2 separate regions of the Homo sapiens genome follow, and region 2 is linked to region 1. The links come from fine-mapping of genetic effects on gene expression. A gene starts in region 1. The other region holds a variant in brackets. All regions are shown on one strand. Distances are from middle to middle.

Region 1 (5,528 bases):
GGAGGCCCTCACAGGAGCCCAATTCCTCATCTTCCCAGTAAGGACCACCCCCACGAATCCCTCAGCACCAACCAGAGCCCCTGTTCTCAGCTTTGCCCCATCTGATCTCGCCAAAGACACAGTGTGCTGGCCCTGACTCCAGGCTCAAATGTGGCAGCAGACCACACTGTGGTGGGCACAACTGGATGCCTGAGGACCGATCTGCTGGGTTATTCAGGATAGACAGCCCCTCTGGGCCCTGTCTCCTCTGTAAACTGGAGGTGAACGGCACCTACCATATGGAGCGGTGGAGGAGGTGGGGAATGGGTCAAATCAGTAGCTATAAATTGTAGAGTGGGGTGCATGTCCCCAGTGCAACCATCGAGTCGGACTTTTGTCTCTTTTGAAAAATTTATTTATTTTGAGACAGGGTCTCATTCCGTCACCCAGGCTGGATGGAGTGCAGTGGCACAGTCATGGCTCACTACAGCCTCCAACTCCTGGGCTCAAAGGATCCTCCTGCCTTAGCCTCCCAAGTAGCTGGGACTACAGGCACACGCCACCACACCCAGCTAATTTTTGTATTTTTTGTAGAGACGGGGTTTCGCCATGTTGCCCAGGCTGGTCTCGAACCCCTGGGCTCAAGTGATCCGCCCACCTTGGCCTCCCAAAGTGCTGGGATCTTTTCTCCTTTTGAGACTCTCCTGTGGCCTGTCCAGAGGCCACACTCCAGCCCAATTTCTACTTCCTGAGCTCTCCCTACACCAACCTCCATGCCCTCAAGCAAACCTCCCAGACCTACTCCTGGCAAAGATGTTCTGCAATACCACCTTCACCCTCATCACCCGGAAAACAGCTGCTAGTAAACAGCTGCTTCTTTCATGAAAACAGCACTAGAAGGCTGGGCGTCGGGCTCATGCTTGTAATCCCAGCACTTTAGAAGGCTGAGGCGGTAAGATTGCCTGAGCTCATGAGTTCAAGGTTGCAGTGAGCTATGACCACTCCACTGCACTCCAGCATGGGTGACAGAGTGAGATCCTGTCTTAAAAAAAGAAAAGAGGCTGGGGGTGGTGGCTCACACCTATAATCCCAGCACTTTGGGAGGTCGAGGTGGATGGATCATTTGAGGTCAGGAGTTTGAGACCAGCCTGGCCACCATGGTGAAACCCCGTCTTTACTTTACTAAAAATACAAAAATTAGCCAGGTGTAGTGGTGTGGTAACTGTAGTCCCAGCTACTCAGGAGGCTGAGGGAGGAGGACGGCTTAAGCCCAGGAGGCAAAGGTTACAGTGACCCAAGAGGGTCACTACTGCACTCCAGCCTGGGCAACAGACAGAGACTCCATCTCAAAAAATAATAATAAATAAAAATAAGAAAGAAAGAAAATACCACCGGAGACGCTACCTCCACAAAGCTCACACCTGCCCTTCTGAGGGCCACAGAATCTGGAACAATCTGAGAGCCTCCCCTCCCCCACACTCTGCACCAGGAGCTGCAGGTAAACCTTGGGAACCCAGGGCCTCTGGAGGTGGGAAGACAGACAACTGGGTGGGAAGCGAAGGCTGTGCAGCAAACGCCTTCCTGAGCTGCAGCCCCCTCAGCCTCCTGCACTTCCTGCAGGGCTGGCACTTGGCACTTCCTCTCAAATTGGCTGGCTTGTCACTTTTATGTCTCCTTTGGCCTCGTCTAAGACAATAATACAGTCATGATGTCACAATGGCAATGTCCTATTTACAGATTTTTTTTTCCCCAAGACAAATACTTAGATTTTAAACATGTCCTTCCACACACAGGCTAGAACCCCCTGTGATTCCCTGGGCAGCCCGGTCCTCACTCCGAGAAACACTGGTGTTGAGTCCACCCCTCACAGCCTCCATCTGCAAGATGGTGATGCTAGTGAAGGCCCACGGTCACATAGCCCTTCCAGACACATCCAGCCCACACTGGCTGCCCGTCCAGGCCTTGGACCCAGGGCCCCTGTCGTAGGTGGCTCGGCCTGGCCCCTACCTCCAGGCCCTTGGCTTCCCCCTCCCGGCCCTCCCTTCTCCTCTCCAGCAATGGCTGTCCAGGGAGGAAGCCCCCAGCCACAGATGTCCCTGCCCTTGACCCTGATGTGATGACACAGAGAAGAGGCAACTGCCTCACCCTCTGTACATACATGTTTAGATGAATGCATAGAAAGCTCCAGAAAGACCCGCTCCAGAAAGACCCACTCCAGATGGCCCATGCGGTCCCTGGGGGATAGAGGAGAGGCATTGCAGGGAAAGGGAAACCAGTCTGCTTTTTGGAGGCATCTTGGTTTCCTGACCCTCAGGCATGCACTCCTTTCAGAGGTTTTGTTTGTTTTTTGTTTTATAATTTCATAAAATTAGTTGAATTGGCCTTCCCTTGCCAATGTTTCCTTTCATTGAGAAAAGTCATGTGTGCTTGTAAATGTAAAATTACACCCTCGAGAAGGAGTGTGGACATTTGAGAGTCTGTGGTTCCTAGAATTCCAGATGGAACGGGCCACATGTACAACATTGTGGTCACAACCGCACTTTCTTGTCAGGCTGGGAAAAGCCAGTGACAAGTCGCCTCTGGTCCCCTGTTGAAGGGCCGCCTCTCCCAGCCATCTGCCCAGTAGGCTCACGGAGCCTCCTACTCCCCCAGCCCAGACCCTGCCCAGTGCACTCCCAGGCCAGGCTGCCGGGTGAGCTGCTTCCCACCCACTGTCCAGCCCCGTCCCCTGGGGCTCAAGCCACTAGGACTGGTGACACTCCATCCCCACACCCCACTTTTACCTGGCTCTCCTCCCCGGCCCCAGCAGCCGGCCAGGGTCTGCAGGGAGGTGGCCCGGCCCCCGCCTGCCCTTCCTCAGACGCGCCCAGGCTCACCCATCCGAAGGCTCCTTCCACGCTACCTAATGAGAGTGAGTCACATCTGGGACCCACCACTTCCTGCTCCGGCAGCGGCAGCAGCGGCGGCGGCGGCAGCAAGGCTAAGGCACAGCCCACAGCCCAGCCTCTCGGGGTGTGCAGGGCCCCCTCCCCCAGCCACAGTGCTGCTCTCCGCAGCCTGGGAGCTGCCAGGCCTGGGAGCTGTCGGGCTCCAATGACTTCATGGAAATTTGAAGCTTGAAGCTGGAACAATTTTGAAAAAATAATAATAAAACAAGCACCAAAAACCTCCATTAGAAGCCCCAAGACAACTGTTCAAAGTGGGGAGCAAATGCATCCTTAGTGAGCAATTAGCAATTAGCGGCCTGGCCTGAGCCTCCTGTGGGCTCTGACGCTCACAGACAGGCCCCCCGCGCCTTCCTGGGACTCAATTTCCCTATCTATGTAGTAAGGTGGCCCCGTCCACCTCTGAGAGGGGCCCAGGAGAGGTCAAAGATCTTCCAGCCCAGCCCACTGCCTCTCCATCTCACCTACGCTCCCATGCTGGGAGCAGGGCAGGGGCAGGCCCATCCTTGGGGCTCCTATTCCAAAATCAGAGTCCCTGGAGAGCCCCCAACATCCCTGGGCACCATGAGGCTGGGAATCAAACCCCAGCACCCCTTCTGCTATGCCAGGCCTCAGTTTCCCCACTGGGATCATGGGGCGCTCAGTGGCGAGGGAGCAGATCAGGAGAGGCTAAGAGGAGAGAGTGGAGACTCCCAAAACAGAGGGGGAGGCCTCCAGCCCGCTGGCCACAGCAGCACCTGGTCCTCAGGGAGCCCTTCTGAGCATGTGACTGGCATCCTGGGATTACGAGCTCCTCAAAGCAATGGTGTACCTCCTCCACCTCCCACATCCAGGGTCAGACACCCCTCTTCTGGTCTTCTAACCCCTGCACCTTCCTCCATCACAGCACCTCTGTGCTGTGACCACTGGTTGCTGGTCTGTCTTTCCTAGGTTATATCCTTGAGGAGGGCAGAGATGGGAGGGCAGCTGTAATATCAACAGCTGTGTCCCCAGCGTCCAGCCCCAGCTGGTCACAGAGTAGACATCCCACACATACTGATCAGGAGGAACTGAACATGTTAGGTGCTGTCTCTGTGCCAGGCCCCATGCAGGGAACTAGCAGGTGATCTAAGGTCTGCCATCTGGTGGAGACAGGCATAGGACTCACACAGGGTTCCAGGCTGCTCCAGAGGCCACAGGAGGGAGTGGGAGACCTCAGGGGATCCTCCCCATCAGGGTCGCCCTCCTATCAGCAAATGTCTCCCTAGCAAATGTCCCAGAGCAGAGAAGGAACAGACATCATCATCATCAAAAGAGGGGAAAGACAAGCCACTGACTAGGAGAAAGTCACATCCTATATGACTGACAAAAGACTCCTCCCTAGCATATATAAAGATCTCCCAGGCTTGGCATGGTGGCTCATGCCTGTAATCCCAGCACTTTGGGAGGCTAAGGTGGGCGGATCACCTGATGTCAGGAGTTTGAAACCAGCCTGGCTAACATGGCAAAATCCCGTTTCTACTAAAAGCACAAAAATTAGCCAGGCGTGGTGGCATGAGCCTGTAATCCCAGCTACTTGGGAGGCTGAGGCAGGAGAATCACTTGAACCTGGGAGGCAGAGGTTGCAGTGAGCCGAGATCACACCACTGCACTCCAGCCTGGGCAACAGAGTGAGACTCTGTCTCAGAAAAAAAAAAAAAAAAAAAGACCTCCCACAAACCAATAAGAAAAAGACAAATGGCCCAATTAAAAGATGAACAAGAGACTTACACAGGTACTTCAACAAAGAGGATGCCAAAATGACCAATAAGCACATGAAAAAGATACTCAACATCATTAGCCACCAGCAAATTAAAACCATATAGAGATTCCACTGTACCACTAGAATGGCTAAAATTAAAATGAAAATACCAAGTGTTGACAAGGAGGAGAAGCAGCTCTTCACTCTCATGTACTGCTAGTGGGAATGTAAAATGGAGCCACCATGATGAAAACTGCCTGGCAGTGTGGACAAAAGCAAACCATATGCTTCCCCAATGACTCAGCAATTCAATCTCAGGTATTTACCCAAAAGAAATGAGTACATGTGTCCACAAATGACTTCTATCCAAGTGTTCAGAGAAGCTTTCATCCTAACAGTCAAACTGCAAACCCAAACATCCTGCAATGAGTAAATGGATAAACAAATTTTCATATATTCACACAACAGAAAATTACTCAGCAGTAAAAAGGAACAGATCACTGCTAACACACAACATGAATGAATATCCAAGATGGCAAGGACAGTGAAAGACCCACCCACAAAAGACACATTCAGCACGTTTCCATTTATATGAAACTTCAGAAATGATGAAACTAATCTACAGTGACAGACAGCAAGACAGCGGTTGCCTCTAGGGAGGCCGCTGATTGGAAAGGGGCACACAGGAAACTTCTGGGGGCTGAGGAGGTTCTAAATCTCCCTGTGGGTGCTGGTTATACAGGCGAGTGCCTAAGTACACTCATTACCCTGTACATTGAAGGTTTGTGCACTTGCCTGTATGTAAATTACCCGTCCATTTTTAAATGGGTATTGAGGGATACCCGTTTGCGTATGCAGGAGGGCATGGTGCTGGATGCTCAGTA
Region 2 (5,000 bases), 79 kb before region 1:
CCAGTTTTCCCAGCACCATTTATTAAATAGGGAATTCTTTCTCCCTTTCTTGTTTTTGTCAGGTTTGTCAAAGATCAGATGGTTGTAGATGTGTGTTATTATTTCTGAGTGCTCTGTTCTGTTCCATTGTTCTCTGTCTCTGTTTTGGTACCAGTACCATGCTGTTTTGGTTACTGTAGTCTTGTAGTATAGTTTGAAGTCAGGTAGTGTGATGCCTCCAGCTTTGTTCTTTTGGCTTAGGATTGACTTGGCAATGCAGGCTCTTTTTTGGTTCCATATGAACTTTAAAGTAGTTTTTTCCAATTCTGTGAAGAAAGTCATTGGTAGCTTGATGGGGATGGCATTGAATCTATAAATTACCTTGGGCACTATGGCCATTTTCACGATATTGATTCTTCCTACCCATGAGCATGGAATGTTCTTCCATTTGTTTGTATCCTCTTTTATTTCATTGAGCAGTGGTTTATAGTTCTCCTTGAAGAGGTCCTTCACATCCCTTGTGAGTTGGATTCCTAGCTATTTTATTCTCTTTGAAGCAATTGTGAATGGGATTTCACTCATGATTTGGCTCTCTGTTTGTCTGTTATTGGTGTATAGGAATGCTTGTGATTTTTGTACATTGATTTTGTATCCTGAGACTTTGCTGAAGTTGCTTATCAGCTTAAGGAGATTTTGGGCTGAGACGATGGGGTTTTCTAAATATACAATCATGTCATCTGCAAACAGGGACAATTTGACTTCCTCTTTTCCTAATTGAATACCCTTTATTTCTTTCTCCTGCCTGATTGCCCTGGCCAGAACTTCCAACACTATGTTAAATAGGAGTGGTGAGAGAGGTCATCCCTGTCTTGTGCCAGTTTTCAAAGGGAATGCTTCCAGTTTTTGCCTTTCGGTATGATATTGGCTGTGGTTTTGTCATAAATAGCTCTTATTATTTTGAGATATGTCCTATCAATACCTAGTTTATTGAGAGGTTTTAGCATGAAGGGCTGTTGAATTTTGTCAAAGGCCTTTTCTGCATCTATTGAGATAATCATGTGGTTTTTGTCTTTGGTTCTGTTTATATGCTGGATTACGTTTATTGATTTGCATATATTGAACCAGCCTTGCCTCCCAGGGATGAAGCCAACTTGATCGTGGTGGATAAGCTTTTTGATGTGCTGCTGGATTTGGTTTGCCAGTATTTTATTGAGGATTTTTGCATCGATGTTCATCAGGGATATTGGTCTAAAATTCTCTTTTTTTGTTGTGTCTCTACCAGGCTTTGGTATCAGGATGATGCTGGCCTCATAAAATGAGTTAGGGAGGATTCCCTCTTTTTCTATTGATTGGAATAGTTTCAGAAGGAATAGTACCAGCTCCTCTTTGTACCTCTGGTAGAATTTGGCTGTGAATCCATCTAGTCTTGGACTTTTTTTGGTTGGTAGGCTATTGCCTCAATTTCAGAGCCTCTTATTGGTCTATTCAGGGATTCAGCTTCTTCCTGGTTTAGTCTTGGGAGGGTGTATGTATCCAGGAATTTATCCATTTCTTCTAGATTTTCTAGTTTATTTGCATGGAGGTGTTTATAGTATTCTCTGATGGTAGTTTCTATTTCTGTGGGATCAGTGGCGATATCCCCTTTATCATTTTTTATTGCATCTATTTGATTCTTCTCTGTTTTCTTCTTAGTCTTGCTAGTGGTCTATCAATTTTGTTGATCTTTTCAAAAAACCAGTTCCTGGATTCATTGATTTTTTTGAAGGGTTTTTTGTATCTCTATCTCCTTCAGTTCTGCTCTGATCTTAGTTATTTCTTGCCTTCTGCTAGGTTTTGAATGTGTTTGCTCTTGCTTCTCTAATTTTTTTAATTGTGATGTTAGGGTATCAATTTTAGATCTTTCCTGCCTTCTCTTGTGGGCATTTAGTGCTATAAATTTCCCTCTACACACTGCTTTAAATGTGTCCCAGAGATTCTGGTATGTTGTGTGTTTGTTCTCATTGGTTTCAAAGAACATCTTTATTTCTGCCTTCATTTCGTTATGTACCTGGTAGTCATTCAGGAGCAGGTTGTTCAGTTTCCATGTAGTTGAGCGGTTTTGAGTGAGTTTCTTAATCCTGAGTTCTAGTTTGATTGCACTGTGGTCTGAGAGACAGTTTGTTATAATTTCTGTTCTTTTACATTTACTGAGGAGTGCTTTACTTCCAACTGTGTGGTCAATTTTGGAATAAGTGCAGTGTGGTGCTGAGAAGAATGTATATTCTGTTGATTTAGGGTGGAGAGTTCTGTAGATGTCTATTAGGTCTGCTTGGTGCAGAGCTGAGTTCAATTCCTGGATATCCTTGTTAACTTTCTGTCTCGTCGATCTGTCTAATGTTGACAGTGGGGTGTTAAAGTTTTGCATTATTATTGCGTGTGAGTCTAAGTCTCTTTTTAGGTAACTCAGGACTTGCTTTATGAATCTGGGTGCTCCTGTATTGGGTGCATATATATTTAGGATAGTTAGCTCTTCTTGTTGAATTGATCCCTTTACCATTATGTAATGGCCTTCTTTGTCTCTTTTGATCTTTGTTGGTTTAAAGTCTGTTTTATCAGAGACTAGGATTGCAACCCCTGCCTTTTTCTGTTTTCCATTTGCTTGGTAGATCTTCCTCCATCCCTTTATTTTGAGCCTATGTGTGTCTCTGCACATGAGATGGGTTTCCTGAATACAGCACACTGATGGGTCTTGACTCTTTATCCAATTTGCTAGTCTGTGTCTTTTAATTGGAGCATTTAGCCCATTTACATTTAAGGTTAATATTGTTATGTGTGAATTTGATCCTGTCATTATGATGTTAGCTGGTTATTTTGCTCGTTAGTTGATGCAGTTTCTTTCTAGCCTTGATGGTCTTTACAATTTGGCCTGTTTTTGCAGTGGCTGGTACTGGTTATTCCTTTCCACGTTTAGTGCTTCCTTCAGAAGCTCTTGTAAGACAGGCCTG[G/A]TGATGACAAAATCTGTCAGCATTTGTTTGTCTGTAAAAGATTTTATTTCTCCTTCACTTATGAAGCTTAGTTTGGCTGGATATGAAATTCTGGGTTGAAAATTCTTTTCTTTAAGAATGTTGAATATTGGCTCCCACTCTCTTCTGGCTTATAGGGTTTCTGCTGAGAGATCTGCTGTTAGTCTGATGGGCTTCCCTTTGGTGGGTAACCTGACCTTTCTCTCTGGCTGCCCTTAACATTTTTTCCTTCATTTCAACTTTGGTGAATCTGACAATTATGTGTCTTGGAGTTGCTCTTCTCGAGGAGTATCTTTGTGGCATTCTCTGTATTTCCTGAATTTGAATATTGGCCTGCCTTGCTAGGTTGGGGAAGTTCTCCTGGATAATATCCTGAAGAGTGTTTTCCAACTTGGTTCCATTCTCCCCATCACTTTCAGGTACACCAATCAGATGTAGATTTGGCCTTTTCACATAGTCCAATATTTCTTGGAGGCTTTGTTCATTTCTTTTCACTCCTTTTCCTCTAAACTTCTCTTTTTGCTTCATTTCATTCATTTGATCTTCAATCATTGATACCCTTTCTTCCACTTGATCAAATCGGCTACTGAAACTTGTGCATGCATCACGTAGTCCTCGTGCCATGATTTTCAGCTCCATCAGGTCAGTTAAGGTCTTCTCTACCCTATTTAATGTAGTTAGCCATTCGTCTAATCTTTTTTCAAGGTTTTTAGCTTCTTTGCAATGGGTTCAAACATCTTCCTTGAGCTCAGAGAAGTTTGTTATTACTGATCGTCTGAAGCATTCTTCTCTCAACTCATCAAAGTCTTTCTCCCTCCAGCTTTGTTCCGTTGCTGGCAAGGAGCTGCGTTCCTTTGGAGGAGAAGAGGTGCTCTGATTTGTAGAATTTTCAGCTTTTCCGCTCTGGTTTCTCCCCGTCTTTGTGGTTTTATGTACCTTTGGTCTTTGATGATGGTGACATACAGATGGAGTTTTGGTGCGGATGTCCTTTCTATTTGTTAGTTTTTCTTCTAACAGTCAGGACCCTCAGCTGCAGGTCTGTTGGAGTTTGCTGGGGGTCTACTCCAGACCCTGTTTGGGTATCACCAGCAGAGGCTGCAGAACAGCAAATATTGCAGAATGGTACATGTTGCTGCCCGATCCTTCCTCTGGAAGCTTCATCTCAGAGGGGCACCCAGCTGTATGAGGTGTCAGTTGGCCCCTACAGGGAGGTGCCTCCCAGTTAGGCTACTCGGGGGTCAGGGACTCACTTCAGGAGGTAGTCTGTCCGTTCTCAGATCTCAAACTCCATGCTGGCAGAACCACTACTCTCTTCAAAGCTGTCAGACAGGGACGTTTAAGTCTGCAGAAGTTTCTGCTGCCTTTTGTTCAGCTATGCCCTGCCCCCAGAGGTAGGCTCCACCCAGTTCGAGCTTCCCGGTGGCTTTGTTTACCTACTCAAGCCTCAGCAGTGGTGGGCGCCCCTCCCCCAGCCTCACTGCTGCCTTGCAGTTCAATCTCAGACTGCTGTGCTAACAGTGAGTGAGGCTCCGTGGGCATGGGACCCTCTGAGCCATGCGCGGGATATAATCTGGTGTGCCATTTGCAAAGACCATTGGAAAAGCACAGTATTAGGGTGGGAGTGTCCTGATTTTCCAGGTACAGTCTGTCACAGCTTCCCTTGGCTAGGAAAGGGAATTCCCCAACCCCTTGTGCTTCCTGAGTGAGGTGATTCCCTGCCCTGCTTCGGCTCACACTCTGTGGGCTGCACCCACTGTCCGACAAGCCCCAGTGAGATGAACCCAGTACCTCAGTTGGAAATGCAGAAATCACCAGTCTTCTGCATCACTCATGCTGGGAGCTGTAGACTGGATCTGTTCCTATTCGGCCACCTTGGAACCTATCACTACACACTTTCAAACAACCAGATCTTGTGAGGACTCATTATCACAAGAACAGCAAGGGGGATATCTGCCTCCATGATCAAATCACCTCCCACCAGGTCCTTCCCCCAACATTGGGGATTACAATTCAACATGA

Evidence for each region. PIP is the estimated chance that this variant, and not a neighbour inherited with it, causes the effect.
Region 2: its variant is the best candidate, but not a certain one, in a credible set for the expression of ADCY7 in whole blood (TOPMed, PIP 0.74).

Annotation. Positions count from the first base shown.
Region 1 is chr16:50,263,915-50,269,442 of GRCh38, reverse strand. It overlaps ADCY7 (adenylate cyclase 7), which reads right to left and starts at 2,892. Exons shown (of 26, transcript NM_001114.5): 1 at 2,763-2,892. RefSeq lists enhancers at 3,120-3,209, 3,155-3,748, 4,816-4,995.
Region 2 is chr16:50,343,200-50,348,199 of GRCh38, reverse strand. The region is part of intron 5 of BRD7 (bromodomain containing 7); the gene reads left to right. Among named protein-coding and RNA genes, the nearest start is that of BRD7, 23 kb to the left of the region's middle. The variant G/A (reference allele first, on the strand shown) is at 2,964.